5 linked regions of the Homo sapiens genome follow. The protein of the gene in region 1 interacts with the protein of each later gene in a pairwise test. Each region holds a gene or a part of one and is shown in the gene's direction. Other genes may lie near its edges. The genes, in order: TRPV2, SDC3, SLC44A2, ALDH1A3 and ST18.

What was found.
Region 2: the proteins of TRPV2 (region 1) and SDC3 interact in a protein complementation assay, tested with the Homo sapiens proteins (one study listed by IntAct).
Region 3: the proteins of TRPV2 (region 1) and SLC44A2 interact in a protein complementation assay, tested with the Homo sapiens proteins (one study listed by IntAct).
Region 4: the proteins of TRPV2 (region 1) and ALDH1A3 interact in a protein complementation assay, tested with the Homo sapiens proteins (one study listed by IntAct).
Region 5: the proteins of TRPV2 (region 1) and ST18 interact in a protein complementation assay, tested with the Homo sapiens proteins (one study listed by IntAct).

Annotation. Positions count from the first base shown.
Region 1 is NC_000017.11:16,424,262-16,429,985, forward strand, and holds part of TRPV2 (transient receptor potential cation channel subfamily V member 2), read left to right. Parts: intron 1-1,837; coding exon 1,838-2,008; intron 2,009-2,460; coding exon 2,461-2,616; coding exon of another isoform or gene 2,617-2,628; exon of another isoform or gene 2,629-2,629; intron 2,630-3,187; coding exon 3,188-3,286; intron 3,287-4,055; coding exon 4,056-4,126; intron 4,127-4,555; coding exon 4,556-4,721; intron 4,722-4,938; coding exon of another isoform or gene 4,939-4,998; exon of another isoform or gene 4,999-5,724. UniProt on the Homo sapiens protein: Calcium-permeable, non-selective cation channel with an outward rectification. Seems to be regulated, at least in part, by IGF1, PDGF and neuropeptide head activator. May transduce physical stimuli in mast cells.
Region 2 is NC_000001.11:30,879,940-30,885,663, reverse strand, and holds part of SDC3 (syndecan-3), read left to right. Parts: intron 1-5,573; exon of another isoform or gene 5,574-5,724. UniProt on the Homo sapiens protein: Cell surface proteoglycan that may bear heparan sulfate. May have a role in the organization of cell shape by affecting the actin cytoskeleton, possibly by transferring signals from the cell surface in a sugar-dependent mechanism.
Region 3 is NC_000019.10:10,627,829-10,633,552, forward strand, and holds part of SLC44A2 (choline transporter-like protein 2), read left to right. Parts: intron 1-91; coding exon 92-176; intron 177-3,228; coding exon 3,229-3,313; intron 3,314-3,446; coding exon 3,447-3,557; intron 3,558-3,646; coding exon 3,647-3,707; intron 3,708-3,797; coding exon 3,798-3,921; intron 3,922-4,039; coding exon 4,040-4,123; intron 4,124-4,215; coding exon 4,216-4,328; intron 4,329-5,724.
Region 4 is NC_000015.10:100,881,676-100,887,399, forward strand, and holds part of ALDH1A3 (retinaldehyde dehydrogenase 3), read left to right. Parts: intron 1-3,591; coding exon 3,592-3,696; intron 3,697-5,724. UniProt on the Homo sapiens protein: Catalyzes the NAD-dependent oxidation of aldehyde substrates, such as all-trans-retinal and all-trans-13,14-dihydroretinal, to their corresponding carboxylic acids, all-trans-retinoate and all-trans-13,14-dihydroretinoate, respectively.
Region 5 is NC_000008.11:52,399,057-52,404,780, reverse strand, and holds part of ST18 (suppression of tumorigenicity 18 protein), read left to right. Parts: exon of another isoform or gene 1-1,080; intron 1,081-5,724. UniProt on the Homo sapiens protein: Repressor that binds to DNA sequences containing a bipartite element consisting of a direct repeat of the sequence 5'-AAAGTTT-3' separated by 2-9 nucleotides. Represses basal transcription activity from target promoters.

The DNA of each region.
Region 1 (5,724 bases):
ATTCTCCTGCCTCAGCCCCCTGAGTAGCTGGGATTACAGGCACCCACCACCATGCCTGGCTAATTTTTTTTTTGTATTTTCAGTAAAGAGGGGTTTCACCATGTTGGTCAGGCTGGTCTTGAACTCCTGACCTCGTGATCCACCCGCTTCGGCCTCCCAAAGTGCTGGGATTACAGGCACGCGCCACTGCACCCAGCTAATTTTTTGTATTTTTAGTAGAGATGGGGTTTCACCATGTTGGCCAGGCTGGTCTTGAACTCCTGACCTCAGGTGATCTGCCCACCTCGGCCTCCCAAAGTGCTGGGATTACAGGTGTGAGCCATGGCACCCGGCCAAACATTGGGAATTTTTAAAAGTCGTTTGTGTTTCTTTATTAAGAGATAGCCTTTTTATATCTTTTGCCTATTTTGCTATTCTGTTTCTGCATATTTATTGATAACTTTATAATGAATTTAGTATTTTGTCTACCATAGCACTTGTAAAATTTCTCCTAGTTCATCATTTGTCTTTTGAATTTTATGTTTTTTTTGCTATACAGGATTTAAAAATTTTTATAATCTGCAAGTGTGACTATCTTTTCCTTTAAGGTTCCATGGTTTTGCTATTGTCTAATTCCTGCTACAAGATTTTATATATATAATACATATTATATGTACATAATATATGTTATAACTATTATACATTATATTATACATTATAATTATATATAGTATATATATAATCTTCATACCCATATTTTCTTCCAAACTTTTGCAGCTGCATTTTTTTTTTTTTTTTTTTGAGATGGAGTTTCGCTCTTGTTGCCCAGGCTGGAGTACAATGGCGCGATCTCGGCTAACTGCAACCTCCGCCTCCGGAGTTCAAGCGATTCTCTTGCCTCAGCCTCCCGAGTAGCTGGGATTACAGGCATGTGCCACCACGCCCGGCTAATTTTGTATTTTTAGTAGAGACGGGGTTTCTCCATGTTGGTCAGGCTGGTCTCAAACTCCCGACCTCTGGTGATCCACCTGCCTCAGCCTCCCAAAGTGCTGAGATTACAGGCATGAGCCGAAACGCCCAGCCTGCAGCTGCATTTTTAATGCCTAGAGCTTTGACTAGCTGGAAGTTATTCTGGTAGGAAGAGTAAACATGAGGCAGCCCCCACTTTGTTCCAGATAGCTTACCAATGGCCTGTTCCAAATAGCTTTTGCCAATAGCTCACCAGGGCTGGCCTCATGGGCTTACAGTGGAGATTTTTGAAAGATTAAGGAAACGATAAACATAAATAGAAGTTTTAACCCTTTTTCGCTGCCCTCCCAAGTTTTTTGGAGTGCTCCCTGGGGTGTGTGAACCTCACTTTCTTGTCTAGAGGCACTGCTGTGTGGCCTATGAAAGCAGTGTCCTGATCTGTTCCTCCTTTCCCATTCCTCACGCGTGAAACCAGACTGCTTCCTAACCTGTTTGGATTAGGGACCACTTTCTAGTCTGTTGAAAATTCTAGATTCTGACCGCGAAAGTGCACACACAGATACAGCTAGTAGACTCTGATCTCAGGGGCCTCAAGGACCCCAGGGCTAGGGATCAATCTGCCATTTGAGGAGTTCAAGGAAGGCCACAGGGCAGGGGAGGGGAAGGAAGAGCCAGGCTGGCTGGCAGGCTGGGGCAGATGTGGCTGGGTGCGTGTGTGTGTTTAAGAGTTTAGACAAACAAGGACCTGCGTGTATGGGGGTACGTGCACGTGTCAGCTGCAGCTCTGCAGACCGTGGGCAGCTGCTGAGTCCTGGGTGTTTCCCAGCCTTGGCCCAGGATCAGTGCCAGGAAGGGACCATGAATGCAAGCTCATATGGCCACCCTGCAGATTTTCAGGCACATCCTGCAGCGGGAGTTTTCAGGACTGAGCCACCTTTCCCGAAAGTTCACCGAGTGGTGCTATGGGCCTGTCCGGGTGTCGCTGTATGACCTGGCTTCTGTGGACAGCTGTGAGGAGAACTCAGTGCTGGAGATCATTGCCTTTCATTGCAAGAGCCCGGTGAGCCCACAGGAGCATGGGTGCACGCAGAGGACCCAGCAGAGTTTCCAGCAAGGTCCACAAATTGGGGCTGCCTGCTGGACCATATCTGCCCCATTCCTGTGCCAGTGGGGGTGTGGCTGCATGTCCCAGCAGGCACGACCCTGACCATGGCCACCGGGCCCATACTCAATCCATACTCTAGTCCCATCCAAGACGGGGATCATGCCAAGGGCCTCGTGGCAACCATCCGGGTCCTCTCTGTTAACCAGCATCTCATTTGGAGGGCAAGCCCCTTAGTCACACTGTAGCTGGGAGGGTTGGCGTGAGGTCCTTTGGGGCTCCTGGGGTGTGGAAGCCTGCTCCCTGTCCTCTCTCCTCATTTCCTGGGCCCTTGCTTTGATCTTGACATGGAGTGGGCAGCCTATTTGCACTTGTTGAGTGTACCCATGGCTCTCCCCTCCCCACCCCAGCACCGACACCGAATGGTCGTTTTGGAGCCCCTGAACAAACTGCTGCAGGCGAAATGGGATCTGCTCATCCCCAAGTTCTTCTTAAACTTCCTGTGTAATCTGATCTACATGTTCATCTTCACCGCTGTTGCCTACCATCAGCCTACCCTGAAGAAGGCAAGGGCGTGAGGTTTGGGGGGGCACATCTTGGGGGAGGCCTGCTTGAAACAACCCTGGGGGAAGATGGGGCAGTAATAGTGCTGAGGCATGGGCTGCTGGAGTGACATTCCCAAGCTTATGGGAGCCAGCACTGCAGTACTAACGGTGATACAGTGAAGATTTGCTGAGTGCTCACTGTATGTGAAAAAGGATTCTAGGTGATGGACATGTGTTGACTAATTAATGTGCCCCAAAACCCTTGAGATGGTGAATTATAATCACCCCCAGTTTATAGTAGAGGGAAGGGAGGCACAGAGAGGTTAAGTAACTTGCCCAGGGTCACACAGAATGGAAGTGGTGTGGAGAGGGAATCTGAATCCAGGGAGTCTGGCTTCAGACCCTACACTGAAATGCTACACAATGTGCCTCTCAGGATCCAGGGGTCCTTCCCTGGAGCCCATGTTCCCATGCCGTTCTGAGGAGCCTCTCCACAGCTCAGGCTCAGAGTAGGCCCTCAGCTTCAGCTCTGAAGGGTGAGCTGTTCGAGAGAGGACCCAAGGCCCTAGGTCTCATCTGAGTGTGTCTTCAGCAGGCCGCCCCTCACCTGAAAGCGGAGGTTGGAAACTCCATGCTGCTGACGGGCCACATCCTTATCCTGCTAGGGGGGATCTACCTCCTCGTGGGCCAGGTGAGTGCCCCTCCCCTTCTCCTACCAAGAAGCAAACCTAGAATTCTGCTTCAGGGGGCTTAGAGAAAGTTAGCTGCATCCCCTCACTGACAATACCCAGTCCCACCCAGAGCAACCAGCCTCACTGAAGCTGAGGGCCAGAGGTTCTGGCCTTGCCTTCTGAGTCCCCAGGAACCCCTCTGCTGTGCTTTTGGGGTTCCTTGGGGTAGCAGATAGCTTCTCTGATTCCTTGGCAGTACAGACTCTGCTCCCCCAGGAATGGAGCTGGAAGCGCCTGCCCCTAGCCAGGCCCCTCGGCTGGGAAGCTCCCCTCTTGGGGAGCACAGAGACCAGAGGTAGGTGGGGTTCAGGCTATTTCCCCCAGTAGGGCCTCTTCAGTGGGAAATGCTGTAAGCCTGCAGGACACAGGCTGGACACCAAGACATTGGGACCTCCGCAGAGTGGGCAGAACTTGGGCACCAAACGCAGGTTGGCTGGGGTATGGGTGCTCCCTGTGAGGCCAGGGAGAAGGGAAGGGAAAGGTGCTCTTCCCCTTCCTGCATGCAGTGCACAGGCTCTTCACCTGCACCCCCCGGCCTTGCCTAGGTGGCTGCTCTTTCTGGAAAGAAAGTCCCAAGCTATCTCAGCTATCAGAAGTATTCATGAGTCCCCCAAAACCAAAGCTGCTGACTTAGCTCTAGCCTGGGTGGCAGGCTCCCACTCAGCCAGGCCAGCAGGGGGCATGCGGGAGAGCAGGTTTCACAGCCCTCTGTCCTCCCTTCCTCCGCAGCTGTGGTACTTCTGGCGGCGCCACGTGTTCATCTGGATCTCGTTCATAGACAGCTACTTTGAAATCCTCTTGTACGTGGGTTCTCACTCCTCCTTCTCTCAACTGTCTCTGAGGTCTGGAAGGGGCAGTTGTGGCAGAAGGCACCAGGTTGGCTTTAGAGGCGAGGACACGGGGCCCAGGAAGTCGGGATCTGTGTACAGGCCAGTCCCAGGAGTCTGGGCTGCCGTCCAGCCTGGGGCCCCTTGTGCTCCCATCACTGTAGATGGTGATAGTGACATTTACTAGGCCTCGGCACATACCTGTTTCACTTAGTCCTTGAAAACACTCTATGAGTCAGGCATCATTATTATTATGCCCATTTTACAGTGGGAGGGAACTGAGGCCCACAGAGGTTAAATGTCTTGCCTAAGATGGAGGTCAGGACCTTGGTCAGCATAGGCCAGTGGGGGCTCAGGGAGCCAAGTGGCCCGCAAGCCCACCTGGATTCTGCTCCCACACAGCCTGTTCCAGGCCCTGCTCACAGTGGTGTCCCAGGTGCTGTGTTTCCTGGCCATCGAGTGGTACCTGCCCCTGCTTGTGTCTGCGCTGGTGCTGGGCTGGCTGAACCTGCTTTACTATACACGTGGCTTCCAGCACACAGGCATCTACAGTGTCATGATCCAGAAGGTGAGAGAAGGGGGTGGCCCACCGGGACTCTTTTGGCCTCATCAGGCAAGAAGAGCCTTCCTCCACAGCTATCCTAGGCAGAGGAGGGCATGTGTACATCTGCCTGTGCGCCAGCACTCAGATGCTTGCTGGATGGAAGCTTAAGTACAGGCCTGCACATACCTCTCTCAGGGCTCTGCATGCACACGCAAACAAACGTACATATGTGTGTTTGCAGGTGTCCACACGGGAGCATGTGCATCCTTCCACAAGCAAGGAGCAAAGAATATGTGCATAAGCTCATCTGCATGTCTGTGTCCTGCGATGTGTGGGCGCGGGCATGTAACTGCATTCATTTATGTATTCAGCGCATGTTTAGGGAGTGCCTACTGTGGGCCGGGCCCTGTTCTAGGTGTTGGGAATATAGCAGAGAACAGAACAAGTCCTTGCTCCCCTGAAGCTGATGTTCTGGTGGGAGGAAATGAAAACCTTAAGAAAACAACTGAGAACATTCCACACTGCTAAATTCTATGAAGGAAAAAAAAGCACAGGACAATGTGATGCAGAATGGCTGGGACCAAGTACCCTTTAGATGGGATGGTCTGGGAAGCCTCTCTAAAGAGGGGATGTTTAAGTTGAGACCTGAAAGAATGATTCAGCCACAGCAGGGTGAAGAGGAGATATTCTCAGCAGAGGGCACAGCAGTGGCTGCCACGAGCCAGAAGGAGCTTGGGGTGCTTGGGACAGGGTGAGGAGGCTAGGTGGCTGGGGAGATGGCAGGAGGGTGGAGGTGAGGAGGTTGGGAGGAAGGGAAGGGCCAGGGGCCCCTTCCACGGGGAGGGATTTGGAGGTCCCCAGAGGCTTTTTTTTTTTTAATTGTAGTAAAATACACCTAACATGGAACTTTTTTTTTTTTCTTTGAGATGGAGTCTCACTCTTGTTACCTAGGCTAGAGTGCAATGGCACCATCTCAGCTCACTGCAAACCCCTACTCCTGGGTTCAAGCGATTCTCCTGCCTCAGCC
Region 2 (5,724 bases), on another chromosome or scaffold:
GGCCGTGGGCCCTGCCAGCTCCCTCAGAGGCTTTTGTGTTCATTTCCTTTCCACCCCCCTTTTCAGTTTCCTCGTAAGGTCCCTCACGAACAGTCTCAATGGGGTCTCAGCAGAACCAGGGGACCCGGAAGTTTCACAGACCAGAGAACACCAGGGATGGAGACTCAGGGAGGATGTGCGCTCTCTAATAACAAAAGTGCTATGGGTTTATCGGAGAAATTGTGGAAAATACAGAAAGGTCCTGAGAAGAAATTAAAGCTGCCTGTAATCCCACCACCCAGAGAGAGCCTCTGGGAACCTTTAGTTATAATGCAGCATTTGGAAATTCACTTTGATAGTGAGTTCATTAAAACAGGATCAAGTTCTACATATTTTTTGTAACCTATTTTTTAAACATAATGATGATACTCATATTAATAGCCAGCATTTACTGAGCAATTTGTTAATGGGTGAACATGCCCAGCCTCCTTCTGTAAACCCCACGAGGTGGGCATTCTTATCTTTGTTTTACCAGTTAAAGCAGCCTGAGAGAGTTAAATATCTGCCCAAAGTCACATCGGAATTGAGAGAGCCATCTGCATATTCCTATCAACAGCTATACTGTCTTGTCTTCTGATGATCAATATGTGCATTTTCCTACATCCTTCAATATTCCTTGTAGCAAGTAAAAAAAAGCCTTCTATGACACATTTATGTCTTTTAATAACCTCATTAGACAGTGTAGATTTGTGAGAACTCAATTGTTGATAGCTGCGTAATATTCCATGTTATGGTTGTACCCTCATTTATTTAACTCGTCCCCTGTCGTTCAGTATGTGGGTTATTTCCATTTTTTCCCTCTCGTAAATTACATTGTCCTGGATCTCCTTGACCTAAGGATCAAATTCTTGGGAGTCCAGAGTGTCAGAATCAGAAAGGCCCTTAGACCACCATGCTTGGTTTTCCATTTTGCAAATGGGGCAAAGGAAAGGCAGAGAAGGGGGAAGAGGATTTGTCCACGGTCTTGGAGGCTGTGGGCGCCTGAGCCAGGGCTGCTACCTGCTCTCCTGTTGGGGCTGGGGTGGGGATGTGGGTGGAGGCAGGTGCCACAGTGGGAAAAAGGGCATCCTGGGGGGATGGTGGGAACACAGGGCTGGGTAGAGGGCAGACTGGAGGTGACAGGAGAGATACAGGCTTGGGGTAGGGAGGGCTCTGCTGCCATGATATCTTTGCAGAGGAGTTGACTGGGATGGGACAGGCCCAAAGGGAACATTTCCTGCCCTCTGAGCTGCCTTTGTAGATGGGAGTAGGGGGTGGGGATAGGTTTGGTTTGTGAGAGGCTTGAGTGTGTGAGTTGGGGCGAGTGGGAGGGTGTGTGTCTGGGCTTGGTGGATTTTTCTTGGGGGGGGTCTGTGGTGTTTCAGCTTGGCCTTCTCTGCCCTCCCCATTCCACTCCTCCCCGGGCTTCTGCTCTCTGGGACTTGGGCTCCATAGCCCCTTCCCCAGCAGGTGCAGTCCTCGTGCCCCTCATCTCCAGCCACAAGTGGGTGTGGGACTGCCGGCTTCCTGGCCAGGGCAGCTGTGGCTGGGTGGGGGTGGGGACTGAGACATCCCCCTCCTGGTCCCGGCTCCCAATTGTGCAGCCCCCTTGGCTGTCTTGCTGCCCGGAGCTTGGCCCCAGCCCACATTCCTGCGGTGATGCTCTGGGTCTCCGGGGTGGATCTGGTGAGCGTGAGGGGCACTGAGTTCTCACAGGACTGAGGGCTTTTTGGGGACGGAGCCTGCAGGGATCCAGAGGGCCATGCTGAGACACCCTCCCTCCCTGCCTCGAGGAGCTAGTAGTTACGTCGCTGTGTGTCTTTGGGCAAATCACTTTACCTCTCTGAATGCTTCGTGGCAGACTAACCCCGCCCCCTCCTTTCGTGATAAGCAAGGCTTTCCCCTCTCTGTGCCTCAGTTTCCACATCGGTAAAAGGGGAGAGTTGAACTCAGTGATCCCTCAGGCCCAGTGTAGCCTTGAAGTTGCAGCCTGAGGTGGGAAGTGCAGGCTGTAGGAATATAGACAAAGCCTTATACGGCTCCGACTGTGTGCAGGCATGATCTCACTTGATTCTCACAACTGCCCTATGAAGTATCATTGTTGGCCTCATTTAACCAAACAGGCTCAGAGAGGTTAAGTAACACATCCAAAGTCACCCAGCAAGTAAGCAGAGCTGAATTTGAATCCAAGACTGTCAGAACCTAAAGCTGGGCCCCCACCCCTTGCTCATGTCGCCTCTGGTCACCAGGAAAGTGAGGCCTGAGTCTGGCTAATTAGGGGAAGGAAGCTCGGGCAGAACTAATTACACTCGATTTTATTCTTGGCTTTTTGCAACATGATTAGCGCTGCACAGGGGTGCCGGGCTCCTGGCCCCCAGCCTGCTGACCTAATTTGTGTGCTTGTGTCTGTTTCTGTAACTTGCCCTTTCTCCCCCTTCATCCAACCTCTCTCTTTTTGTCTCTCTCTGCACTCTCCCCTGCTGTGTGGCCTTGGCAATGCCACTTAACCTCTCCGGGCATTAATCGTCTCATCTGCCTGGGTGTAGTCATCCCAATTTGGCTTCCCTCATGAGGAGGTTGAGGCTTACATGAGATAAAGGCTTCGAAATAATAATAGAAATTTTAACATAAACTAACAGCAATCGTGGCTACACTGATTTATTCATTTTTCACTTGGTGTCGGGTCCTGTGCTTAGCCCCTTCCCACAGCAATGCTATGAGCTGCGTAGTCTTCTCATCATCTCCATTTTACAGATGAGAAAACTGAGGTGCTGAGATTAAATGGCTTGCCTGACAGCCAACCGGGTAGTAAAGAGGAGCTGGTTCATTATGCTTTGCCTCTGTGCTGACCGGTTTCTCTAGGAAGGCTCATGGTGGTGTGGGGCTGGGCACGAGAGACCCCAAATTCTGGAGTGGGCTCTGAGAGAGGATGGGGTGGGAGGGATGCACTGGCCTTCCTGAACGTGTCCCCTGCACTCAGAGTGAGTGATGAGTGGGTGGGTAGAGGTAGCCGTGAAAGTGAGGAGACTTAGCTGACATCCAGCTCATTTGGACCCTCACCCATCACAGCCCTGATGGGGTGCTCCTGGGAGGGAGGGGGCTGGGCAACCTGGGAGGTGGCACCTCCTTGCCCCTGGCCCAGGGGAGCCTCCCCAGCTGCTGCTCTAAAACTCTAGGAGAGGATCGGTGGGAGTGGATGTGGAGTGAGGGGGCCTGTGGGTCACTGCTGGGCCTGGTCCCTTCTGGGCTGGGAGCCTGAGGTGCCTCTGTGGAGTGAGGCTGTGGGTTACTTCAGGAAGGTGTGGTGACTAGGGGACTGTGAGGAAAAATGGAAGCAGGGGGCATCAGTCCACTAGGAAGGGTGCCACATTTCATCCCGATGTGTGTGTGCACTTGTGTGTACCCGGAAGGAAAGTGCGTGTTTGCGCGCATGTGTGTGTGGAGGGAACTGAGATGCAGGTATTGTGGACCTGTTAATGGCATGTGAGGCGGGATGTATGTCTGCTGGGGCAGGTTCAGGGAGGGACAAGTAGGCTGCGCACATGTGGAGGCAGGGTGTTGGGAGTGCCTGGTGTGTTGGGTCCCGTGCTCAGCCCCTTCTCCTGCAATGCTATGAGCTGCATAGTCTTATCACCATCGTGTGCTGGCGCGTGGGTGTGGATGTTGGGTGGGCATGGACAGCTGTGGGCATTGCCGAGTTGATGTCATGCAGGGGGTGAGGGCAGCTGCGGGGCACAGATGTATGAATTTAGCCCTGGACAAGCAATGGGTCTGGGGGTGGCTCAGGAATGTCCAGGACAAGGGTTTCAGAGACAGAGGCCTCATGCCTGGATTCTAACCCCTGCCTCAGTTCCTGCATCTGTGGAATGGGGATGATAAAACCCTGGGCAGTTGTGATGCTTAAAGGAGGCTGCATAAATAACATGCTCCCAGCACCTGGCCTGGGGCAGGCCCTCAGCAGCAGCAGGCAGAGGTCTCTAGAGTGCCCTGGGAACGCTCAGCGGCTCCCCTGGGACCTGATGCTCAGGCCTTCATGGGCCGCTTGCGGAGCCTCTGCTGGGTGTCCCCTCCCGAGATCAGTGGTGGCCGGAAGCAGAAGGTTCAGTGCTTCCACCGGGCACGCTCGCTGTGTGTGGGGGGTGCAGCCGAGAGGAAAGGTTGTATCCGAGTTGTGAGGTTCATGTCTGAGTCAGAGGATGCACCTGCCGAGGGTGATGTCTAGGAGCGATGTGTGTTTAGGGAACATACGTGGCCATGGCGGTGGGTCCGTGTTGTGGGCCTTGGTGAGGTGAGTGTGGTGCGTGGGGTCAGGAGAATGTGCTGAGGTTTCTCGGGGGCATCCGTGGGGTGTGTGGTGAGGAGAGGAGTGTGTGTGTGTGTCTGTGAGTACCCTAGGGCATGTGTACAGGCAGCTAGGGGTGAAGTAGATGGGTGAGTGTGTGCTGGTGTGGGCTGGGCTGTATTGCCTATAGGCTGTGGTGAGTATACAGATTGGTGTGGGCAAACATTGCACTTAATAGTGTGTGTGTGTATCCATTGGGGTGCATAGTACATGCAGAAGAATATATATGCATGAGGATGTTGGGCTGTCGTGTGTGTGTGTGTGTGTGTGTGTGTGCATGCGTGCGCGCGTGTCTTGGGGGTATGGAAGCCTCCTATCAGGCATGGGGGGGTTGTGTTTACCTGGAGGGGGCACAGTGAGGGTCAAGGAGAAGCTGGCAGCGTCCTGGGGCTTTTGGATTCAGTTCTCCTTTAAGGGAATGGCATGGATAATTATGCTTATTATGATGGATTATGCAAATGCGGAGGTCGTTTGGGGGTCAAAGCCTGCTTGTCACCCTCCTCCTCAGGCATTCTGTGACTTCTAAGGCTTTCCCTGCTGCCTCCCAGGCTCCGTTCCCCAACCCCTATTTCTCTGTCCCCTCTGGGAGTTGCAGCTACCAGCACCCCCTCTGTAGTGTTCCTGAGAGGGCCTCATGAGTCCCAGCGCCCATGCCTGCAGGTCCCAGGTGTCCTCGCATTAAGTTCCCGCTGAGCATCCCAGGTGGGCTCAGGGGTGACTGGGCCGTTCCTCCCCCTGCACACCCTGCCATTGGGGATGCTTGCTGTTCGGAAAGAATGTACTCTTGGAAGCAGGTTTGGAAAATTACTGAGGTGGCCCCTTCCCCAGCCTTGCCTCATCAGCATGAGGCTAAATTAGGATGTGTGAGTTCTCCCCTCTGCCTCCCACCCTTGCCTTCTCTCCTTCTCTCGTACCCCCAGCCCACCCTCCCCGTCTCTGCCCCTCTGCCCCCTGGCCTCCCTCAGTCCTCGACTCTCTGTCACCGTCTCTGTCTCTGCCTCCCCCTTCCCTGTCATCCTCTCAGTTCCCCCGTGATCTCTCCCTCTCCTGTACCACCCCATCTCTGTGGGGAGCTGCAGCTCCTGGTCGTTAGCATGGAGAAGATGGTCGTCATGGTAACGGTTGTCATGTCGATGGCTACTGAGCTGGGGATGAATAGTATGTAGGTGAGCGCTACCTGAGTGGAGGCTGATGGGTTTCCAGGAGGCTCGATGCTTGTCTCTGAGCTCAGAGCTGCACAGCAGGCCCAGCTCCTCCTGCCCCATGTGAGTGGCTGTTTTTACCCCCAGGCATGCTGACACGCTGAGCCCTCTGTGGCTGCTTTTAGGTGAGCATGTTTCAGTGTGTGTCTGTGCATGTGCTGT
Region 3 (5,724 bases), on another chromosome or scaffold:
GGGTAGGCGGAGGCAGCCATGGCCTCTGGAGTGGGAACAGGGCTGGATCTGAGGAGTGGCAGTGTCTCAGTATCCCTGGATCTTTCCACAGCCTGGACTCATGGAGACCCTCGAAAGGTGATCTACCCCACTGACAGCCGGGGCGAGTTCTGCGGGCAGAAGGGCACAAAAAACGAGTGAGTTGACTCCTTGCGGCCTGGTGGGGCTGGGGAAGAGGGGGCAGAAGATTCTAGGCATTCCCCATCTCTCTAAGTCCAGTTAACAAGTGCTTATAGGCTGGGCGCGGTGACTCACGCCCGAAATTCCAACACTTTGGGAGGCCGAGGCAGGAATATTGCTTTAGGCTAGGAGTTCGAGACCAGCCTGGCCAACATGGCAAAACCCCGTCTCCACTAAAAATACACAAATTAGCCAGGCATGGTGGCACATGCCTGTAATCCCAGCTACTCAGGAGGCTGAGGCAGGAGAATCACTTGAACCACAGGAGGCAGAAGTTGCAATGAGCCGAGATCGTGCCACTGCACTTTAGCCTGGGGCACAGAGTGAGACTCTGTCTCAAAACAAACAAGCAAAAATTAAGTGGACGTGGTGGGGCACACCTCTAGTCCCAGCTACCCAGCAGGCTGAGGTGGGAGGATAGCTTGAGCTGGGAGGCCAAGGCTGCAGTAAGGTATGATTGTACCATTGCACTCCAGCCTGGACGACAGAGCGAGACCTGGTCTCAACAAAACAACAAGAAAAGAAAACAAGTACTGATAAACGTCCCACTACCCTCAGCCACTAGTCTAGTCCTTGGGGACACACAGCTCTAAATGAGATAGTAAGCATCCTGTTCTCTGGCAGCACACATTTTAAGGGCGGGAGAGACTGAGAGGGGACAGTCCTGGATTACGCGTCAGGTGGTGATGAACAGGTGAGACAACAGAGCAAGCATAGCCTGAGTGGCGTCACTTCCTGGCTCTGTGACCTAGGGCAGGTGTCTCAATCTCTCTGAACCTCGTTTTCCTCATCTCTAAAATGAGGATCATAACAGTCCCACCCTCATGGGGCTATTTTGATGGTTAGATGTGCCAATACATGTACAGAGCTTAGAATGCCACCTGGCATCGCTGGGCGTGGTGGCTCACACCTGTAATCCCAGCACACTTTGGGAGGCTGAGGTGGGAGGATCAAGACCAGCCTAGTCAACATGGTGAAACCCCGTCTCTACTAAAAATACAAAAAAATTAGCTGGGCATTGTGGCATGTTCCTGTAATCCCGGTTACTCAGGAGGCTGAGGCAGGAGAATTGCTTGAACCTGGGAGGCAGAGGTTGCAATGAGCCGAGATCGTGCCACTGCACTCCAGCCTAGGCAACAGAGCAAGACTCCATCTCAAAAAAAAAAAAAAGAATGGCACCTGGCATAGAGTTGCTGATGCTGCAGTTTTTAAACTATTATTATTATTATTATTACTATTATTATTTTGAAACGGAATTTTGCTCTTGTTACCCAGGCTAGAGTGCAGTGGCACAATCTCAGCCCACTGCAACCTCCGTCTCCCGGGTTCAAGCGGTTCTCCTGCCTCAGCCTCCCGAGTTGCTGGGATTACAGGCATATGCCACCATGCCCAGCTAATTTTTGTATTTTTAGTAGAGACGGGGTTTCATCATATTGGTCAGGCTGGTCTCGAACTCCTGACCTCAGGTTATCTGCCTGCCTTGGCTTCCCAAACTGCTGGTATTACGGGTGTGAGCCACCACACCCGGCCTATTATTATTATTACTATTATTATTATTTTGACACAGTGTCTCACTCTGTCAGCCAGTGGCAGGATCATAGCTCGCTACAGCCTGGAACTCCTGGGCTTAAGCGATCTTCCCACCTGGGCCTTCCAAAGTGCTGGCACAAGACAGGCCTGAGCCACCCTGCCTGGCCCTATATAAGATATCTTTTTTTTTTTTTGAGACAGAGTCTCGCTCTGTCGCCCAGGCTGGAGTGCAATGGTGCGATCTTGGCTCACTGCAACCTCCGCCACCCAGGTTCAAGCAATTCTCCTGCCTCAGCCTCCTAAGTAGCTGGGATTACAGGTGCCCGCCACCACACCCAGCTAATTTTTTGTATTTTTAGTACAGACGGGGTTTCGCCACGTTGGCCAGGCTGGTCTCGAACTCCTGACCTCAGGTGATCCGCCTGCCTTGGCCTCCAAAAGTGCTGGGATTACAGGTGTGAGTTACTGCACCCGGCCATATAAAATATCTTAAAGGAAACAATAGGCCGGGCACGGTGGCTCACGCCTGTAATCCCAGTACTTAGGGAGGCCCAGACTGGAGGATTGCTTGACACCAGCCTGGGCAACATGGTGAAATTCTGTCGCTACCAATAATAGAAAAAATTAGCCAGGTGTGGTTGCGCACACCCGTAGTCTCAGCTGCTCAGGAGGATGAGGTGGAGGATCACTTGATCCTAGGAGGTAGAGGCTGCAGTGAGCCAAGATTGTGCCACTGCTCGCTCTGTCTGGGCAACAGAGAAAGACTCTTGTCTCAAAAAAGAAAAAAAAACAAAAGAGGCCGGGCGCAGTGGCTCACGCATATAATCCCAACACTTTGGGAGGCTGAGGCGGGTGGATCACCTGAGGTCAGGAGTTCGAGACCAGTGTGGCCAACATGGCAAAACCCCGTCTCCACTAAAAATACAAAAATTAGCTGGGCATCGTGGCGGGCACCTACCTGTAGTCCCAGCTACTCGGGAGGCTGAGGCAGGAGAATTGCTTGAACCCAGGAGGCGGAGGTTGTAGTGAGCCCACATCACACCATTGCACTCCAGCCTAGGCAACAGAGCAGGACTCCATCTAAAAAAAAAAAAAAGAGAAAAATAAAAAAAGTTTTCTATAGGGTGGTTAAGAAGTCTTAACAGGTCGGGTGTGGTGGCTTACACCTGTAATACCAACACTTTGGGAGGCCAAGGCAGGCGGATCACCTGAGGTCAGGAGTTTGAGACCAGCCTGGCCAACATGGTGGAAACCCCATCTCTACTAAAAATACAAAAATTAGCCGGGCTTGGTAGCGGGCACCTGTAATCCCAGCTACTCGGGAGGCTGAGGCAGGAGAATTGCTTGAACCCGGGAGGCGGAGGTTGCAGTGAGCCGAGATCACACCATTGCACTCCATCCTGGGCAACAAGAGCGAGACTCTGTCTCAAAAAAAAAAAAAAATCTTAACAGTTTCCATTCTCCCTTCTCTAACTCCAGGAACAAACCCTATCTGTTTTATTTCAACATTGTGAAATGTGCCAGCCCCCTGGTTCTGCTGGAATTCCAATGTCCCACTCCCCAGGTAACCTGGTCCCCACCGTTCCCTTTTTCCTCTCCCCGCTTCCCATCCTTTTCCCCCTGTGAATGTGGGCTGCGACCTCAGTCCTGAGCAGTCTGCCCCAACTCCACCCAATCCCTTCCTTCTCCCCTCCCAGATCTGCGTGGAAAAATGCCCCGACCGCTACCTCACGTACCTGAATGCTCGCAGCTCCCGGGACTTTGAGTACTATAAGCAGTTCTGTGTTCCTGGCTTCAAGAACAATAAAGTGAGTTGTAGACTGTCCTGAGAGCACAGGTATGGGCAGTGGCAGTGTACTAGACTTGGGGACTCACCTCCCTCCATCTCTCTTGGCAGGGAGTGGCTGAGGTGCTTCAAGATGGTGACTGCCCTGCTGTCCTCATCCCCAGCAAACCCTGTGAGTCAGGGGATCCCAGGAGGCTCAGGTGGTGACGGGGAGGCTCTGCAGAGGCTCAGCCTGACTGGTGCCATCCTCTGCTCCATGCAGTGGCCCGGAGATGCTTCCCCGCTATCCACGCCTACAAGGGTGTCCTGATGGTGGGCAATGAGACGACCTATGAGGATGGGCATGGCTCCCGGAAAAACATCACAGACCTGGTGGAGGGCGCCAAGTGAGGATATTGGCGCACCGCGCCAGGGTCTCACTTTGCTGGGTGGGACAGGCAATCCCCTGTGGTTGGCCTGATCATGGAAGAGGGTCTGACCCGAGCCTTGTCCTCCTTCCCCCAGGAAAGCCAATGGAGTCCTAGAGGCGCGGCAACTCGCCATGCGCATATTTGAAGATTACACCGTCTCTTGGTACTGGATTATCATGTAAGTCAGGAGGGAAGGGGCCTCTCCCCTGGCTGCCCCCTCTAAGCCTGGCTGAGGGTGGAGTCTGTTCATGACCGTTTTCTTTTCCCCAGAGGCCTGGTCATTGCCATGGCGATGAGCCTCCTGTTCATCATCCTGCTTCGCTTCCTGGCTGGTATTATGGTCTGGGTGATGATCATCATGGTGATTCTGGTGCTGGGCTACGGTGCGTCACCCCCTCCCTGTGGCTTCTCTTTCCTGAATCCGCACACTGCCCTGCCCTTTCCCGTGGAAATGGCCCATCAGGAAAACAAAAAAAAGTCAGGCCGGGCGTGGTGGCTCACGCCTGTAATCCCAGCACTTTGGGAGGCCGAGGCAGGCAGATCACCCGAGGTCAGGAGTTCAAGACCAGCCTGACCAACATGGAGAAACCCCGTCTCTACTAAAAATACAAAATCAGCCGGGCATGGAGGTGCATGCCTGTAATCCCAGCTACTCAGGAGGCTGAGGCAGGAGAATCGCTTGAACCTGGGAGGCGGAGGTTGTGGTGAGCCGAAATCACGCCATTGCACTCCAGCCTGGGCAACAAGAGCGAAACTCCATCTCAAAAAAAAAAAAAAAAGAAAAAATGTCTCAGCACCGTAGTTAAGGATGCATACTCTGGTATCAGAATAGCAGAGGTTCAAATCCTGGCTTTGCCAATTCTTTGGGCAAGTGCCTCAACCTAACTGTGCTTCAATTTCTTTCTTTTTTTTTTTTGAGACGGAGTTCTGTTCTTGTCACCCAGGCTGGAGTGCCATGGCGCGATCTTGGCTCACTGCAACCTCCGCCTCCTGGGTCCAAGCTATTCTCCTGCCTCAGCCTCCCAAGTAGCTGGGATTACAGGCATGCACCTCCATGCCCGGCTGATTTCGTATTTTTAGTAGAGATGGGGTTTCTCCATGTTGGTCAGGCTGGTCTCGACCTCCTGGCCTCAGGAGATCTGCCCGCTTCAGCCTCCCAAAGTGCTAGGATTACAGGCAGGAGCCACCGCGCCCGGACTGCTTCAATTTATTTCTCTATAAAATGAGGGTAATTCATATTTCTAGTTGGCAAACTAAATGACAAGGAGGTAATGAGCAGATAAAATATGGGTAGGGGCCTGTTTAGTTCAGGCCTGTGGAATCCAGAGGCACAATATCGTGCTCAACAAAACAGTGCTTCATATTTTGGATTTTTGTTGTTTTTGAGTTGTTGTTTTGTTGTTGTTGTTGAGACGGAGTCTTGCTTTGTCACCCAGGCTGGCGTGCAGTGGTGCAGTCTCGGCTCACTGCAATCTCTGCCTCCCGGGTTCAAGCAATTTTCCTACCTCGCCTCCCGAGTATCTGGGATTACAGGCGCACACCACCATGCCCGGCTAATTTTTTTTGTATTTTTAGTAGAGATGGGGTTTTACCATATTGGCCAGGCTGGTCTCGACTTCCTCGTGATCTGCCTGCCTCGACCTCCCAAAGTGCTGGGATTACAGACGTGAGCCACCGCGCCCAGCCTTGATTTGTTTTTTGAGACAGAGTCTCACTCTGTCACCCAGGCTGGAGTTCAGTGGCACAATCACAGCTCACTGCAGCCTTGACCTCCTGGGC
Region 4 (5,724 bases), on another chromosome or scaffold:
GCCAGTTAAAGGGAACCAGTGCAGGAATGAGGCTGAGGGAAGCTGGTGGATCGGCCTGGAGTGCTGGGATCTTGAGTGGTCTCCCAGGCGATAAAGGCCCCAACTGCCTGACACCGGCTGCTGGCTCCTCACCCGTTGGGGGACTGTGCTGCTGCCTGCTCTGTCCTGGCTCCTGGCCCATCTCTGCAGAGACCTCCCCATAGCAGTTGTGGACCCAGGCAGCTTGTGTGGCTGAGGGTGGCCAACCAGTGCCCTGGCACAGTCCTCAGGGAGACTGGACTGGAGAGGCGGCCGAGAGTGAGGCCACCAAGAGTGCCTGCCGAGGGAAGGAGCGGGATAAACTGAAGTGCAGGACTGAGGCCCAGAGTGGGCGAGTGGCCCGGCAGGTGGGTGGCCTGGCAGGAGAGCAGACGGTGGAGCATGGGAGCCAGCAGTGGTCTGCTATTTTCCAAAATTGACTCATGGTGCTTCTCGATAATGGGGCACACACCAGAGTTGGTCCATCTGAGCCCTAGCCCCGGCAGTGCCATTTCCCAGGGTGGTCCAACTTTCAGGATGACTTTGTCAAAGCCCCTTCATTTGTCCTCACATGTTAACATTTCATTCTCTAGGGTCATGCTGTGTGATTCTGGAGAGCTGAGAGCCCCTCCAGGGTCCCCACACAGATCTCAGAGGATAGAAGTCCCTTCTAATTTAGAGGGCCTCTTTCTTTCCTTATAAAATTTCTTCCAGTAGCAGGGATTCTCTTCAAAGTTTTCTGATTTTTAAAACACCGGTTTTTATTATCTCTCTTATGAAAAATAAAATTCCCCCAAATCTCCTTTTCTGAAAACATATTCTTTTTGAGTTTAGCTGAGTGGCCTGTTGTCAGATGGAAGTTACGGGAAATCGGCATCAATAGGATTCACTTGTATGACTGTCATCTTCACCTCTGCCTGAGACACCTTACAGCTCCGTCCTGCTTCCATGTCATTCTGTTCCTTTTGTAAAATGTGAACCAGGTCTACAGCTCAATGTAGCTTAATGCTATACCTCTATAAGGTTTGTTGTATGCTAATCCACAAATCAAAGACAACAATTCCTTCTAGACCCTTTACCCTGATTTGGAGTTCAAAACAATACAGCCAGCATAATCAGTAGACCATATTTATATACCCTTTCCTTATATTTGTGCTTTTGTTTTGTTTTAATGGAGAGAAAAATCAACAGTAGAAACCACTTACAAGATTACTTACTACTGTAGTGTGGTATAAAGTAAAAGATTTTACAAAATTAAAAACATAGTGATGGGAAAATATGGTTAGAGTCAAACAGTCTGATTTTTTTTTAAGGTTGCTGGTTACAGATCAATGTCATGAACAAACAGTAATTTTTTTTGGAGGAGCATGCTTGGAGATGAAGTATAGCAGTATAGCAGACATCCGATCATTGTAATCTGTTTTCAGCCCCCTTATTTATATTCTCTTCTGCCACCTTCTCATTTTCCCTCCCCCTTGGAGTTGATACCAGGAAGGACCTAGAATCAGCAATTTTCACTGACAGTCTCTATTATCTAACCCACGAAATTTCATCTTTCTACAAATGGGCCCCTCTTCCTGGCTGCACTTTCCTCCCCGCACTAACTTAACTCTTCTTCCTCAGTTATTAATTTCTCGCTGTTACCAAGTGATGACTTGCTGGATGGCAAAAGTGAACTCTTGGATTTAGTTTCAGCTGGAAGAATAAACCTGTAATTGTAGCCTGGCCTTTTCCTGGTGCGCTTCCCTGGGGGCCTGGCCTCACATTGGAGACGCTAAGCTTCCAGAAGCCAGACAGGCAAATCCCAATGGTGACCGATGCTCTCAGTTCTGGATTCCAAACTGGGGGGCAGCTGGTCTCTGCTCACCTGCCCAGCCAGAGTCTGCCTCCTGTGCTTGGTCCCCAACCGACTCAGACCAGGCTTCCTCACTATGAGCTTCAGAGGTTTTTGTGGGTTTTTTTTTTTTTTAACATTCTATCAACTTTTAAGTTCTGGGGTACATGTGCAGGATGTGCAGGTTTGTTACATAGGTAAACATGTGCCATGGTGGTTTGCTGCATGGATCAACCCATCACCCAGGTATTAAGCCGGAGCTGTGGAGTTTATACAGGAAGCCCAATACAGAGAATGTAACCAAGACTCATGCTTAGGAGATGGCTGCCCTCTCTCATCTGTCATCACTGGGGAGTCAAATGTTTCAAATGAATCAATTTCACAATAATTGAAATTAGCCCTTGAGGGACGCAATTCTTCCTTTAAACAATTCAAAAAGAAGCAAAGTAAAGCTATGTATACCACATGCAGATAGATGTAAAAACGGAACCTGATGAACTAATTCTGTACTCAGAAATTACTGACGGCATTTTACTTGAGAGACATGCGTGTCAGCCATTTCTGCCACGGGGGTTCTTCTGATGCTGTGATAGGCTGTGATGAGGAAGCCATTCCAAGTTGGTGTAGCAGGAGTTTGTGTGTCTTCTGGCTGGGCAGCCGGGGACCTCCGTGCTGTCGGAATGTGTTTTGTATATTGTCTGTCATGTCTCTTCCTAGTTTTTTCCAAAAGCCCTCTCTTTTAATATGACATTAATAAGACAATTAGAACTTAGTGTAAACTAACAGTAAATAGTACATATGTTTCAGTGCATGGACTTCGTATGTTCTTCTTAGTCTGCTCATGATGTCTTTTGTCAAAAAAACTTTCATTCTCATCTGCATTCTGGATCATTGAGGTTCCCAGAAAAGTGATTTCTGCGGGTTATATAAACAGTTATTTGCGACATCTCTTAATGTAACCTGGAAAGTTTCTAACCCAGACATTTAACTTTGTACTTCAACGCTGGTTTATTATCAAGCTTCGGAGGTTTTTCTGGGTTTTTTTTTTTTTTTGACATTTTATCAACTTTTATTTTAAGTTCTAGGGTACATGTGCAGGATGTGCAGGTCTGTGACATAGGTAAACATGCGCCATGGTGGTTTGCTATGAAAATACACATTTTAAGGGGAATGTGCTGGGGAGGGACATGCTGATGTGCATTGGTGAAAACTGAAGGGCGATGGTGAGATCCTCCTCAAAGTGAGCTCCTTGGCAATCAATCTTGCTGAGTGTTGCCACTGAAAGGAGAAAGGGAGTGCTCGGTGCGTCCTTACCCTTCAGGGGCAGGCGGACTGCTTGGGACTTTTATGTATATAAACCTATTGACTCTTCCCCCAAAGTCTATTGGGGTATGAGATTCCATTCACAGCCTCTATTTAACCATTTAACTTAGCCATTCCTCTGTGAATCCATGTTATTGCTGAAGATAATAATAATAATTTAGAAAAAAATCTCTAAGTGACTATAGTTTTATTTGACCAAAACTTGAATTTCGAGTCTGTCCTAGTTGATCTGTTGGTCATGCAGTCCTGGGACTCTGTTCCCCTCCGGGTCTCATCTATAAGATGTCGAAGGGGAGAGGGAAGCAGCAGAGAGGAAGGTGGACAAGATGGATAAGACGTCACCTAAGGTCCTTAGCATGTTGAAATTATATGATTTTGATCTAAACCTAATTGGTTACACTTCCTTTCCTGGTTAGATATTTATCAACAATGAATGGCACGAATCCAAGAGTGGGAAAAAGTTTGCTACATGTAACCCTTCAACTCGGGAGCAAATATGTGAAGTGGAAGAAGGAGATAAGGTAAATACTTAAAATAAATTTGCTCTAAGTAATTCAATTATGGATGACCAAAGGATAAGGAAACGGTTCGGCTTAGCTATAAGACAGAACTGGCCTATCCTGGGGGCAGGGCCTGGGCTAGCTGCGTGAATTGGCATGTGGTTCTCAGACGTGTGGCACAGAATGGCATCAATTACCGATGATCCTCTGCAGAGAATCATTCTCCCTTGATAGATGTTTCTCCTACTATGAGGATGACCTCAGCTATCCTCATCATATGGCTAAAGGAAAGGTTTTCTTTTTTCTTTTTTTTTTTTTTTTATCAATTATTTGGACCTGGAGGCATTAAAGAATCTTTCCAGAAAGCATTTCCCGCTGGTGTGTTTCACGAAATGAAGCTTTCTGGCAGAAGACACTTTAGAAAAAAATAGACACTTTGAAGGAAAAAAAATAGTTGCTACCCGGGTGATGCGGGGATAGTTAACAATGTAACCACCAGATTTCTTTTCTCCTAGAAATTTACATGAGCATGGAAAGCGGTAACCTTTATCACTCTATTTGCAAGTGCAAGGTCTATATAGTAATACAGAAGCTAAGGGACTTCCGAATGTGTCCTTTATACATTGCAAGGCCATCAAATCTATTCTGAATGTCAGTGCAGAGGTAAAGCCCTTCCACTGAGGGCAGGGAGATGTAAATGTTTCCTTAGCTGCTGGAGTGCTGGACTGATGTTCTTGGTCAGCAAACTGATGACGTTGGAAGTGGATGCAGTGAAGGGCGTGTGCAGAGTAGGCTTGGATTTTATCTTGCCCATGAGTTTTTGTGACAGACGTGCAAATGCACACTGGCCCCACCTATACAGACCCCCCTCTGTGTGGCACCTCATGACAGTTAGGCTCTGCTAACAAAGAAAGTGGCACAGAGGAGCTCATAGAAAAATGTGAGGGCATTGGGGGGAAGCCATGACATGGAATGGGGTTTCCACTAGGAGACTCCCAAGTGCCCCGTACAGGTGCTAGGAGGAGAACGAGACCCTTGCCCTGGGCCTTGATTTCTCCCTTGGTCTGAGTGACTGTTCTGAGCCAGAGGCCACCACACCCTCTGCAGCTGGAAAGGTCCTGGCCTCCACCCCAGAGCCTGGGAGAAGAAATTCAGTGTCCCACATCTCCCCTGCCAAGCTTCTGCTCACCCCCAAGCCAGCTCTGGACACACAGAGACTCGGTAGAGTCACTCCTGACTGGTGTCCCACATCCACTCCCTGCTGTACCTTCCTAGAAAGAGAGAGGCATGGAGGGGCCTTCGAGATGAATGTGGCCCATTTTCCTGAGAAAAAGAGACAGTGACACTACTCTAAATGGCCCTCACTTCTTTCCTTTTAGAAAGAAGGTTCCGTTGTGATTATTCTATCAGTGCACAAAAGATCCAGTTCTGCTCCCATGGGGTGGGTGAGGCTGAAGGGAGAAAAACGGCCTTCATGCTCCTCCCTGTCTGCGAACTGTTCCACGATGGTCAGTTCTGCAATCCAGAAAGGAAGGAATTTCCCCATTCTCACTCTTGGACCACAAGTTCCCAGCTGGGATCAAATGCCAGGCAGACACTTCCCACCTGATCTGTGAACAGCAGGCTCGTGTGCGTTCACACTGAGGCAGCCAGTGGAAAGTCCTTCCGTACTTGGGTCCCTGAGAAAAATACTCTTTAGGAAATATTTTTAAATGCTTTTTATAATCAGAAACAAACATTGGTATTTGGCCACTGTAGAAATATTAAGATGTAAAGAAGAAAAAAAATCACTTGAACGCTCCCAGCCATTCAAGTGATTGAAAAACATGCTGCTGCTTGCAGCCTGTCTGCCAGCGGGACAATCTGCTGTTCTCTATAACTGATGGCCGTGGTCCCAAACTGCAGTCACGTCAAAAGATGACACCCAAACTGCAGTCACCTCAAAAGATGACACCCAAACTGCAGTCACGTCAAAAGATGACACCCAAACTGCAGTCACCTCAAAAGATGACACCCAAACTGCAGTCACCTCAAAAGATGACACCGAAA
Region 5 (5,724 bases), on another chromosome or scaffold:
ATTTTGGAGGTTTTCTTTTTCTAAAGCGTTGGTTAAAATTCAGATAAGTTGATACTTACAGCTTGAGAGAAAAGATGGGGAAGTGGTAGAAATATCAAATCATGAGTTAGTTTTAAATTTCTCAGAATGCTCAGGGGGCAGTGAGGGAAAGAGGGACTTGCTGGCCATGTCCCCACACCTCCGCTTTGCACCTTTTGCTGAAGTTAGTTCCCGAAAACAGTGCTGGGTGTTTGGGTTACATCTGGTTCAGCCTTCTTTTCCTCCTTCCTTCTTTATCCGTCACATGGCCTGCCCTCTATCTCTTAAATCTTAGGTCTGTTGTGAGACTGGGGAAGGAGTGATGTGAACATGTGCTCCTGGGCCTGGAAATGCCCCTCTGCCCCGACTCCTTCTGTCTCAGCAGTGCTTGTCATTAATTCTCCCAACAAATACCTGAGCCCTTCTCTGTGCAGGATGGGTCTCAGTGCTTTGAATGTGCTGTCTCGTTTAATTCTCTCAAAAGCCCTTTATTGACAATGCTCTTATAATATTTTATACAGAAAGAATGGAAAGCTAATCCAATCTTTTTCTAATGTGGTTAATCAAATTTATTTATTTTTAATTAATGGTGGCTTAGAAAGCTTTCTTTCAGCATTACTATCCTTTATGAGATTGTCATAAATGTTTACTATTTTTCATTGTTCATGGCAAGGCGGCAATAGATCTTATTCAGAATTGATAATCAGTGTGATTTATCTGGTAGCCAAACCAAAAATCAAACTATTATGCTGTTTAGATATAATGGTAGCCACTAGAAGATTTACATCAAATGTTAGACCAGAAGCCCTTTCCATCAGTGACCAGGTTTGGTATCTGCTAGGAGGGAAAAGCCTGGTAACTGATCACCAGTGTTTCTGTTCTTTTTACTTTATAGTTTGTAATTTACCAAGGCATGATTAATTTTGCTGATGTTTAAGTTACTTACAATCATATTAAGAGTTAGAGAGGAGTGATATCAGCAAGATGGCTGACTAAAAGTGCCCAACACCCATTTCCTGGACTACCCCCACAAAAAATGAATAAACAATGAATAAACAACTACATTTTGACCACAGTGGCTGAAGAAGAGTGCGGGAGTACAGCAGGAGTGGCAGAAATCCAGTGGAGCACAAACACTAAGTATGGGCTCATACAGAAGAGGAGGAATCATGCCACACCCTTGCCACCCCACCTGTGCCACCCCATTCTCTTATTCAGCTCAGAACCAGGAAGGACTCCTTCCTGGGGGGAAAAGGTAAGCAGGAGGTACCCAGCAGCCCCTATTACCATTGTGGACACCAGCAGTCTTCACCACTGGAGAATTCTACAGTCCTCAAGGTCCCTGAGCTCAGCTTGGGGAGCTGCCTGGAGTTCACATAGCTGCACTGCTCCAAAGAAGGAGCCCACATTGTGCCTCAACTCTTGTAGGCCAAGCTGCTACTGCACTGTGCCATCTGGAAACCAGAGCCACTGCTAGAGTGTGTCCTGCTTGGGGGTCCAGTAGCCACTGTATCTGTTTATCCCTGAGGCCTGGCCACCATTGCACCATGCTTTCAAACATGGTAGTGCAACATTCCCCAACTGAGCTGCAGCAACTCCATACCCCCTGGGAACAAGCTACCTAGAAGCCACCCCATTTCCCCCATCCAAGTTGCTACTGTGCCCCAGCCCCAGCTACTTGGACCCAAGGCCCAGTGGAGCAGGCATGCACTTCAGTGCCTGAACCAGCCCAATGTCCCACCCCCAGGAAGTTGGAACTTTGGTCTAGGGGAGCAGTTACATCCCTGGTATCCAAGCCCTTATGGCAGTGTGCTCTTCAGGTTCCTGGATCCCAGCCCAGCAGAGCAGCCACACCCCATAGTGCTGAGCTGATGTGGTATACTGGCCCCCAGAGAAACAGCCTTGGCTGAGCTGTGCTGCCCCACCCCTGGGCTGAACAGCTGCCGTGCCCCACCTTCCTGGGTCTGGGCCAGCCCTCTGGAGTCTGAATTGACTCCAGAAGTGGCACCTGCTTCCCAGAGCCCAAGCAGTAACTGTGCTCCACTGTTCTTGGGTCCTTGCTGCCACTGCACCTGGCGTCACAGAGACTGACCTACTGCTGTATCCCACTGCTCTGGGACCATAGTCATCACTATGCAGTACCCCCACTTCTGATGCCTGAGTTGCCACTGTGCCCTATTGGTTCTAAGACCTGAATTGCAGCTGTCGCCTGCTCTCTGGGGACTGAGCGTCTAGAACACCCCTTCTTCCCTGGAGCCATGTCAATGCTGTGCCCTGATCTCCAGGATTAGAGTCACAGCTACATCCTTGAACCCTGGGCCCAAGCTACTGGGAAATGCCTTAGAGTCACAGTCCTTGGCTTGGTGGGAGACCTGCATCCACCTGTGCCTCAGAGAATGGACCTGTGCCCACATCACAGGTGCCACAGTAGTTCAACAAGACACTGAGCCCAGGACCCCAGTTCTACAGCCATTCCAATCACATGTGCCCTTGAACACAGTGATGCTATGGCTGCCTGTGGCCCATGTCACACCTGATAATAACAGGGATCCCCTCAGCTAAGTGTGCCCACTGTGGGGAAAATGACAACAGGAGAACCCCTAATGCCCTTGCTGCCAAGAACCCTAACAAACTACCATGCCACCACCACTGCCACAAACTCCTACAGCCGAAGACACTGAGGTACTTGCAGTCATTGCTGATATTAATCACAGCTGAAGAAGCTGCACAGAGACTACATTACTGCACCCACTCAGAAGCAGAGCCAAGTACTCTGCTGACCTGACACTCTAGGACTCATCTACAGGCGAAAGTCTTTCCCTATGAAAGCCCTCTATAAAATTAGAAGAGGCAACTGTTCCACTGGATGCACAGGCATCAACATAGGGACATAAGAAATATGAAAAAGCAAGGAAACATGACACCACAAAAGGAAGACCATAATTCCCTAGTAACTGGCCACAAAGAAATTGAAATTGCTTAAAAAGGAATTAAACCTAATAATTTTAAGGAAACAAGAGAATACAGATAGACAATGCAACAAAATTAGGAAAACAATTCATGATCTGAATGAGAAAGTCCACAAAGAGATAGCTATCATAAAAACTAACCAAACAGAAATCTTATAGCTGAATAACTCCATGAATAAAATTTTAAAATTGACAGCTTCAACAGCAGACTAGATCAAGCAGAAGAAAGAATCTCTGAACTTGAAAAGAAGTCTTTTGAAATAACCTAGTCAGGAGGAAAAAAGAGTGAGGAAAGCCTATGGGATTTATAAGACACTCATTAAGTGACAAAATATTTAAATATGGGGTTGTTAGAGGGAGAAGAAGGGGAAAGGCATGGAAAACTTATTTAACAAATGAGTTGCTGAAAAATTCTCAAGTCTTGGGAGAAAATGGACATGCAGATTTATGAAGCTTAATGATCTCCAAACAGGTTCAACCCAAAGAGGGCCCCACCAAGTCATATTACAATAAAAATGTCAGAAATCAAAGACACAGAGAGAATTTAAAAAGCAGCAAGAGAAAAATGTCAAATGACATATCAGGAAATCTCCATTAGACTGTCAGCAGATTTATCAGCAGAAACCTTGCAAGCCAGAAGAGAAGGGAGAAATATACTTAAAAGTGCTGAAAGAAAAAAAACCTGTCAGCCAAGAATATTACACTTAGTAGTGCTGACTTTCAAAAATAAAGGAGAAATAAAGTCTTTGCCAGAGAAGCAAAAGCTAAGAAAATTTATCACTACTAGACCTGCCTTATAAGAAATATTTAGGGGAATTGTTTAACCAGAAACAAAAGGATGATGATTACTATCATGAAAACATATGACAATATAAAACTCGCCAGTAGAGGTACATTTATTGTCAAATTCAGAATATGTAATTACTGTAGTGGTGGCGTGTAAATCTTTCAACTCTCTAGTATGAAGGTTAAACATCAAAATGGTCAAAAATAACTGTGGCTACATTAAGTTGCTAAGAAATATGCGATATAAAAATATGTAAATTGTGACAACAAAAACATAAATTGTGGATGACAGGGGAGAGGTTAAAAGTCTAGAGTATTTTTATGTGATCAAAGTTAAGTAGTTATCATCTTATAATAATCAATTATAACTATAAGATGTTTTATGTAAGCCCCATGGTACACAAAGCAAAAAACTATAACAAATACACAAATAAGGAAGAAAAGGGAATCAAAGCTTAGCACTACAGAAAATCAACAAATCACAAAGGCAGACAACAAAAGAGGAAGAAAGGAAAAAGAATCTACAAAACAACCGAAAACAATTAACAAAATGGCAAGAGTTAAGTCAATACCTATCAATAGTAACTATTATCAATAATAACTGAATGTAAATGGATTAAACTTTCCAATCAAAAGGCAGAGGGTGTCTAAATGAATAAAAACCCAACATCCAACTTTATGCTGCCTACAAGAGACCCATTGTAGCTTTAGGGACATACACAGGCTGAAAGTGAAGGGAGTGAAAAAAGATATTCCATGCAAATAGTAACTGAAAGAGCAGAGATGGCTGTTTATAGCAGATAAATAGACTTCAAGTTAAAAACTGTTGTAAGAGCAAAGAAGGTCATTATGTAATGGTAAAAGGGCTAACCTATTAAGAAGACAAAACAATTGGAAATATATATGCACCCAGCATTGGAATACCTAAGTATATAAAGCAAATATTGATGGACATGAATGAAGAACTAGATAGCAATACAATAATAGCTGGGGACTTCAACACCCCCCTTTCATCAATGGATAGATCAATCAGACATAAAATTAATAAGGAAACACTGGATTTGAGCTTCACTTTAGGCCAAATGGACCTAACAGACATATATGGAACTTTCAATCTAATAGCAGCAGAATAAACATTCTTTTCTAGTGCACATAGAACATTCTTCAGGAAAGCCCCTATGTCAGTCCCATAGAAGATTGAAATTATATGTACCATTTTTTTCCAACCACAACAGTATGAAACTAGAAGTCGACAACAGGAGGAATCTTGAAAAATTCGCAAATATGTGGAGATTAAACATGTTCCTGAGCAACAAATGGGTTAAAGAAGAAGTCAAAAGGAAATTTAAAAATATCTGGAGAAAAATGACAATGGAAACATAACCTACGAAAACCTATGAACTGCAACAACAATAGTACTAAGAGGCAAGTTTATAGCAATACATGCCTACATTAAAAAAGAAGAAAGATCCCAAATAAATAGCCTAACAATATGCCTCAAGGAGCTAAAAAAAAAAGAGTAACAACTGAAACCTAAAGTTAGCAGGAGAGAAATAATAAAGATCAGAACAGAAATAAATAAAAAACAGAAAAACCATAGATAAAATTCATAAAACAAAGAATTGGCTCCTTGAAAAAAATAAACAGAATCAATAGTCCTCTAGCTAGACTAAGAAATAAAAGAGACAAGACTCAAACAAATAAAATCACTAATGAAAGTGGAGACATTACAACAGACACATCAGAAATAAAAAGGATCATAAGGAACTATTCTGAACAATTGTATGCCAATAAATGGTATAACCTAGAGGAGATGAATAAATTTATAGAAAAATATAACCTACCAAGATTGAATCAGGAAGAAATAGAAAGCTTGAATTTACCAATAACAAATCAAGAGAATAAAGAAGTAGTTAAAAACCTTCCAACCAAAAAAGCCCAGGACCAGTTG